Linked DNA regions of Homo sapiens. The protein of the gene in region 1 purifies or fractionates together with the protein of each later gene. This does not show direct contact. Each region holds a gene or a part of one and is shown on either strand. Other genes may lie near its edges.

The links. Proteins that work in one complex are often made in the same cells at the same time.
Region 2: the proteins of COLEC10 (region 1) and INHBE purify together in Homo sapiens (affinity purification with mass spectrometry; 3 studies listed by BioGRID and IntAct, with this or other methods). This does not show direct contact.

The regions. Positions count from the first base shown.
Region 1 is NC_000008.11:119,098,247-119,101,746, reverse strand, and holds part of COLEC10 (collectin-10 isoform 1 precursor), read right to left. Parts: intron 1-3,500. UniProt on the Homo sapiens protein: Lectin that binds to various sugars: galactose > mannose = fucose > N-acetylglucosamine > N-acetylgalactosamine. Acts as a chemoattractant, probably involved in the regulation of cell migration.
Region 2 is NC_000012.12:57,453,957-57,458,106, reverse strand, and holds INHBE (inhibin beta E chain preproprotein), read right to left. Parts: upstream 2,801-4,150; 5' UTR 2,571-2,800; coding exon 2,273-2,570; intron 2,014-2,272; coding exon 1,259-2,013; 3' UTR 82-1,258; downstream 1-81. UniProt on the Homo sapiens protein: Inhibins and activins inhibit and activate, respectively, the secretion of follitropin by the pituitary gland.

The sequences.
Region 1 (3,500 bases):
TGCTTACTCTATGAAAACCAAAAGGCTGGGTGCTTTGAAAGGATATACAGAAACATAAGATTCAACCTATGACTTGAAGGAGTTTACAATTTTTAGAAGTGAAGTGATGTATGCAAATACTAATAATACAAAGTCATGTCAAATATATTATACTGAAATAGCAACCTTGGTACTTTCCCTCTCTGTACTTCTTTATATGTAACCATTTTCTCACTCACAGGTATCCACAAAATAATTCTCAGAGAAGCAGGATTTTTAAAGCAGAGAGAAAGAATAAAACACGTTAATTTTTTTTCAACTTCAAAATAAGCTCTTGAAGCCCACATCAGACACAATAATTGAAAGCAAAAGCTTTTGATTTTCAGGAAGAAATGTTTGGCTGAGGTTCTTGAGAATCAAAAGGGAAGACCCTGACAGATTAAAATAGAGTTTATGCTTCAATAGTGATCTGGAAAAAAAGAAAAAGAACTCACGAGGGATGAATGCAGGATGAAGGTCACCTAGGCTAGGTATATGGAGCTTACCCTCACAGGAATGTGGTGTGGTCAGAGAATTAGTTATACGGCCCAAGGGGACAATGCAAAAGGGAATGGAGTTGGTATTAAGGTTCTGCCAAGCCTCACCGTTCACCAGCAACAGAGAAAAAGTGGAAGCCACTCTAAAACCTGTAGGGCGCCCCATGTTGCATGCGCTGAGGACACCCATTGGCTTTTCTCATCATTGTCTGATGTGTTTCTTTAAAAGTTCCTTACATAGTTACTTTTGATCATTCAGAAGAAGGCATGCCTGCTGGGGCCCCAAGGATTTGTTGAGCCTTTCTAAACTGAGCCATGTGGACACATTTCTTTAGAGTTGATGCCAGTCATTCACGTGCTCCCCAAACAGAAGGTGGGGGTCCTTGAAGTCCAGAATACAGTTTACATGTGCAGGAGGAAGGCTTGGAACTTGTACTTGGATGAAATGAGACAACGGTGAAATCTATACCAATGGAACGTGATACATGTTGTGAGAGAGACATTGAACAGAGAGATAACATAGTCTGAGAGGAAGGCAGAAGAGATAGTGCTTCAAGTGGAAGGGTAAAGGAAAGTTTAGCATTTGAGCTTCGCTATGAAAAGCTTCAGCAACTGAATGAAAGTGGGCACAAGGTCAGGTTCAAGGTACAGCAGAGGATATAGTTGGGATAAAGGCATGAGCATATGTCGAGCACCCTGCTCAGTAATATCAATCTGCTCACACCTTAGTTATATCCTGCAAATTCCTTATTTCTCTTACCTGTAAGTTGGAAAAAATAAGAATAGATTTTGAGATATTCATGGAAGAAAGGGAATATACATTTTACTAAGTACCAGTCAATCACCAAGTACTATTCGGGATACCTTACACATATTATCACATTAAATCTCATGAACTAAGTGTTATAATTATCTTTATCCTACAACTTGAAGAAATTGAGGATCAGAGAGGCAAAATAACTTGCTCGAGGACATCTAGCCATTAAATGGCAGTGCTGATATTCCAGCCCAACCATTTCTAACCCCCCTTTCATGGTGCTTCCCAGTGAGTTAACCAATGGTTTAATGAAAAAAAGCAAGGTGTTTGAAAAATGTTATCAAAATTTGCAAAGAATAGCAGTCCTCATCACCATCAAAAACATTATGCACTTAAAAGATTGTATGATTATGGGTTTAATGTTTTGATTTTTTAAAACATTATATTTTCTTTGCATGTGAATCCCTTTTAATTCAACACAGATGGAACGTTGATTCCAGTTATGCTATGATCCTAGTTCTGGGCTAAGCTTTAAAATGGACATAAAAGAAGCATAAATCAAGTGCCTTGGGAAAATGACGGGCTTTTAAGGAAAGCAAAACACACATAAGAGAACAAAGAGATGAGATACTATCATGTACTAACAGAGGGAAGCAAATGAAAAGCCTGGTAGAAATTCAGAAAAAGAAAAGATGGTGTGGATCAGAGTGGAGAAGGCTTCACTGAAGCAGTAGCCCTTAGCTAGAACTTAATAATATAGAAAACAGTTTCTTGAATTGCTATGTGGTCTTTTTTTCTGAGAAGACATAAACTCTGTGACTAGTTTTCAGTATTTTGACATGAATTCTTTTCATTTCATGACAAATGGGAACACCAAAGCAGTGTGGTGCAATGAAAGATGATGAAAGCTCCCCAAAACCAGGGTTTGAATCCTGGCTTTGCCACTTACTGGCTACACATGGACAGGTTACTTAATTTCTCTAAGCCTCCTTTTCTTTATCTTAAAAGTAGAAATAATTAGTACCTAAAATTATGAGATCATTAAGGAGAATAAATTAGGTATAGTAATATTTTCTTATAATCGGATCAGCACTGGGCTTGACTCACATAGAATGCTCAACCAATGTTAACTTCTGTTTCCTGAATCTGAGTTATGGTAAAGGAATGCATGCCAAGTACTTAGCCAGCTTATGGAAGATTTGAGCTTACAATGTCTATTTCCCCAAAACAAATTATGATTTAAAGTCATCCACAAAAACTGATTTTGGCCAATGAGTGGGAACATGTCTGTAATAACTGTCTAAAAGTTGAATTAGAGGTCACATTCAAACAAACAAACAAAAAAATCATAATGCTTTCAGCGTAAATGGATTATTGACCTTAAATAAAAACATTTATTTTGCTATGAGATGGAATTTACCTATACTAAATCACTATTATTTCTTATTCCTAAAATGAAATATTGACATCCAGGAAGCTACCCTATCCATGCAAGTGACAACATTAAGGCCAGCCTAGAAAGTTGAGATTAATCTGAGTCAGTAAAATATTCAGAAAGACAATCACCAAAATGAGGACAATAAATTTCAAAGTACAGATTAAAAATGAAATTAATCCGAGTGAGACGGAACATTGCATCTCCATTTAAAAAGATTCCAGGACATGCTCATAAATTTGATGGCATATCTCTGGAGAGGAAGAAAATCTTAATAGCTAATGGTGGAAATTGATATTAAGGAAAAGTGGTACTTATAGGAATATGGAGTAGTAAAGAGAAACAAGTTGTAAGAAATAATATGTTTTATTATGCAGTTTTTCATGTTTAATGCAACAAACATCTAGCAAGTGTCTATAATATATAATAGGCATTAAGATAAAATGGTTAAATACTAGGGTCCCAACAGAGCTTATTTTATTTAAACAAACAAATCCAGTGAACCTTTCATTCATTTGTTCTCCCAAGAAGTTCAGGTCTATGAGGGGAAACAGATAAGCTAATCAGATATGACAGTGAGTACAGTGATACAGGTATGTATTAGGTGCTATGTACCTGAGCCTTAAAGGAGGAATTAGCATGAAGGAAATAAGGTTAGTTAATCCTATCATTTCAAGACTGGTACTTTTTCAACATCTCTGGAAGTTCATCCACTTTGGGGCTCAGCTAATCGTACTAAAAACTCTTGAGCCTTTCTTGTCTTCGTCATCTACTATGCTCCCACCTTACATAG
Region 2 (4,150 bases), on another chromosome or scaffold:
TGAGCTTTTGTTCATATGATTTACATCTATCAATTCACCACATTAGAAATTAAAACTGAAAAAGACTGTAACACAAGACCATACAAGCACACATTCCATTAACAATGATGTCAGAAAGATGATGTAATCACATGTCACACGGCCTCTGGAAAACTCCACAATACAATTTTAAGATAATGAGAATTCAAAAGGCAAATAACATGTTAGTATTATTATGAAAATAGCTTTGACTTTGTGGACACCCCTGAAAAGGGACCTCCCAGAAGCCTACAGAGTACACTTGAAGAACTGTTGCTCTGGACCATCACCCTAACCCTTCTTTATGACTCACATTTGTTGATTTTCTTTCTCCTTTTTATTAAGAAAGTATAAGCCAGGCGCGGTGGCTCACGCCTATAATCTCATCACTTCGGGAGGCCAAGTCGGGTGGATCAAGAGGTCAAGAGATTGAGACCATCCTGGCCAACATGTTGAAACCTCGTTTCTACTAAGAATACAAAAATTAGTGGGCGCCTGTAATCCCAGCTGCTCGGGAGGCTGAGGCAGAAGAATCACTTGAACCCAGGAGACGGAGGTTGCAGTGAGCCAAGATCGTGTCACTGCACTCCAGCCTGGTGACAGAGCGAGACTCGATCTCAAAAAAATAAAAAAGAAGAAAGAAAGTATAAATGCTTGTCTCCCAGTGGGTCCTGTCCCCTGGGAAAAACCAGGGAACTTCTTAGGCTTAGTGCCTCATTTTCCTGACTCCTGTTTCTGGGGGTCCCCTAAGCATCCTCCCTCAGCGCCTTGCCCATCTCCCTCTTGACCTTCCCTTAAGGTACCTCAACAGCCCTTACCCTGGGCCAGCCTGCTTACCCTGCTTCAAGCCTGCTGGACCATCTATCTGCTTCCTCCTCCCCTCACTTGAGGACTTTCTCATCTTGGGAGAGGCTAAGTAATTTTTCTCTGCCTTCCCTCCCTCCCTCCCTAGTCCCTGACATCTTCTCACAGGACTTAGGGCAGGAAATCATGCTTTCTGGGTAGACCCCTTTAGAAGAAACGCTTTACCCATCTCCCAACACATCAGCCAACCTGGAATAAGCCAGAGTCTCAGACAAGAAAGTGCCCATTTGGGTCCCATAGGGGTCAAGTGAGTCATATTGCCAGGTGGTTGTTGGGTTGGGGTGTGGATCAGGAATCTGATGCCTCCAGTCACAGATGCCCTGTGCCTGGGAAACTTCATCTTGGTCTCTTCACTCCAAAGCCCCAGGTCCTCTTGCTAGCTGCAGCCACAGGCCTCCACCACCATATCTGGCACATCCGTCTTGACCACATTGCCATTATGATCCAGGTAGAGGAGAGAGAGGGGCCTTCGGGCAGTAGGGACACAACAGGAGGTACTGGCAGGCCAAGGATTGTTGGCTTTGAGGAGGCTGAAGACGGCAGAATGGAAAGAGGCAGCAATGCCTGGGCTGCCAGCCAGGTGGGGAGGGCACTGCCCACTGCAGTAATTCAGCTGGTACCCCTCGGGCTGCAGTATCCAGTCCCGCCATCCCAGTTCCTGGAAGTCTACGTAATGGTCTCGCCTGCAACATAAGGGGGTCGCAGGCTCACAGGTGGGGGTCCTCCTCCTGGCCCGGCCTGCTCCAGGCTCATTGGCTCGGATCTTAAGCTCTAGGAAGGGCTGCTGGTGTCCTGCTGTGTCCAAGAGCCGCCTCGGTTGTCCAGTAACTGTGCTGTTGCCTTCTAGGGGTCTGCAGTCTAGTTGCAGTTTCAGGACACCAGACTTCTCACCCCTCAAGCCACTAGAGGGCAGAGTTAAGGTATGCCAGCCCAGGTTGGTGATGTGGTGCTCAGCCAGGAGAGTGCGGGACCCTTGGCGCCTCCTCCTTGGTCCCCATCGGAAGATCCTCAAGCAAAGAGTGCCAGGAAGGGTGGGGAGCACGTGCAGCCACAGGCGGGCATGGTACAGGTGGTGGGACCGAGGAGTGGACAGGTGAAAAGTGAGCAGGGAGCTGTAGGCTGAAGTGGAGTCTGCCCGAAAGACAGAAAAGGGAAAGAAAATGTGAGTAGAGATGAAGCTCTCCTCTGAGACTCCCCAAGCCCTGCCCACTGCTCTCCCTCGAACCTACCTCTAGAAAAGTAGAGACTGCTTTGTGTCCTCTGCAACCAGTCCCTGCCCCAGCTCCTCCTTCTCCTGCCACACCCCACTCCCTCTGCTGCTCCTGCCAGGCTCCCCTTCTGCCTCCCTTTCCCTGTCTGCTCTTTGCCTGTTGCTCTCTCCCTCACCCACCTGTGACAGTAGCAAAGCTGATGACCTCCTCCCCATTCCCTGGAGCCACACTCCCTGGCTGTAGTCTCCGGAGGGCTCTGGTCAGCGCTGCCTGGGGTGGAGGATGAGTTATTCTGGGACGACTGGTCAGGTGCAACCCATCCAGGATTTGCTGCTTGGCTAGCTCCAGCACCAGAGCTCGTTCTGCTTGGGGTGCCAGTTTGGAGCCCCCACAGGAGGGACACACAGACCCTGTCCCCTGTGCTCGCACCAGTGCCCACAGCAGCACCAGCCAGAGCTGGACATCAGGGAGCCGCATGCTCCTGGTGAATGGCCCTGGTTCAGGAGCCTCGGATGGCAGTTGCTCCGTCTGTTGAGTCTGATTGCTGGGGGCCAATGAGGGCACAGTGACAGCAGACACCACTGCCACACCTACCCTTGGCCAAGGGTACAGCCACCTGTCTTCTATTGTCTGGGACTCAGGAAGGCTGAAAGTAGATCATCTGATGGATAGCTGTGCTTGACCCTCACAGCTCATGTCTGGCTACTGACCTGGGGCCTCTTTAGAGCCAGCTGCCTGGGTCTTCCAAACCTAGTGGTCAGCCAGCCGACCTACCCTCTGAGTCCCAGGATTGGCCAGCTGTGCTGCCCATCAGGCCCCTGCAGGGGGTGGAGGTCCTCCTCCCCATCAGCTCAGGTTTCACCATCTGGCCATGGTGACTGGGCCTGAAGTAGGGGTATGGGGGTGGGGGGGTGCAATGTGGACACGCATGATGCAAGAAAGAGGATGATTTCACATGCTCAGTCCCCAAGGTCTGGGACTTGGGGGAGGGAACGCCTTATGAGCCAGGTGGGGAAGGGCAATTTTCCCTCATACCTCTAGTCTTTCTAGCTTCACCACTGCTGCAGCAGTTTCCATGAGGCAGCTGTGAGTTCCAGTGGGTATTCCTCTGGGGCCCTTAGGCCAGAAGGAAAATTCTGGTCTCTTTATTTCTAGCACTGGGGCTAGGACAGGGATGAGGGTTTGGGCGGGTAGGAGAATGGAGCCCTCTTGCTCAGGCCCAGGTGGCAGTGCCACGAGGCACAGAAGTCACCCCCTGACCCTGCCTGTGCTGGCCGCCCAGAGTCCAGTTGGCCTGGAGCATGATGTGGAGCATGATGTGGAGGAGGGCCAGAGCCGGCGGGGGTTGGGGCGGGGAACGTGTTCCTGTGATGTCTGGGGAAGCCCAGAGAGGTGGTGGTGGTGGTGATGCAATCTTACACAGGGCAGAGTCCATCAGGACTGTCAGGGGGCATGACACTTGGGAGGGCCTATACCCAGCTGCCACTTCTCTTTCAAGGGACTGTGAGAGTTGCCTAAATTTGGGGCATCCTAGAAGTAGTGCCAGGCCTCCTTTTTTTCTTACATTTTTAAAATTTAAATTTTATTTTATTTTACTGAGGTAAGGTCTCAATCTGTTGTTCAGGCTGGAGTGTAGTGGCACAATCATAGCTCACTGCAGCCTTGAATTCCTGGGCTCAGACAATCCTTCTGCCTCAGCCTCCTTAGTAGTTGGGACTACAGGTGCGCACCACCACACCTGGCTAATTTTTAAATTTCCCACAGAGACAGGGTCTCGCTATGTTGCCCAGGCTGGTCTTGAACTCCTGGGCTCAAGCAATCCACTTGCCTCAGCCTCCTAAAGTGCTGAGGTTACAGGCGTGAGCCACCGCACCACCCTTCAGGCCTGTTAATGGGGGTAGAAAATGGGAGCTCTAAGAGCTTTTGACAACAAAGCAAGGCAAATACAGCAGTCTTGGTTCCCAGTCTCAGCCCTCCTGACCACATTTTCTCACTGTCTTTATTTTATTTTATTTTATTTTATTTTTTGAGGCTGAGTCTCGCTCTGTCGCCCAGGC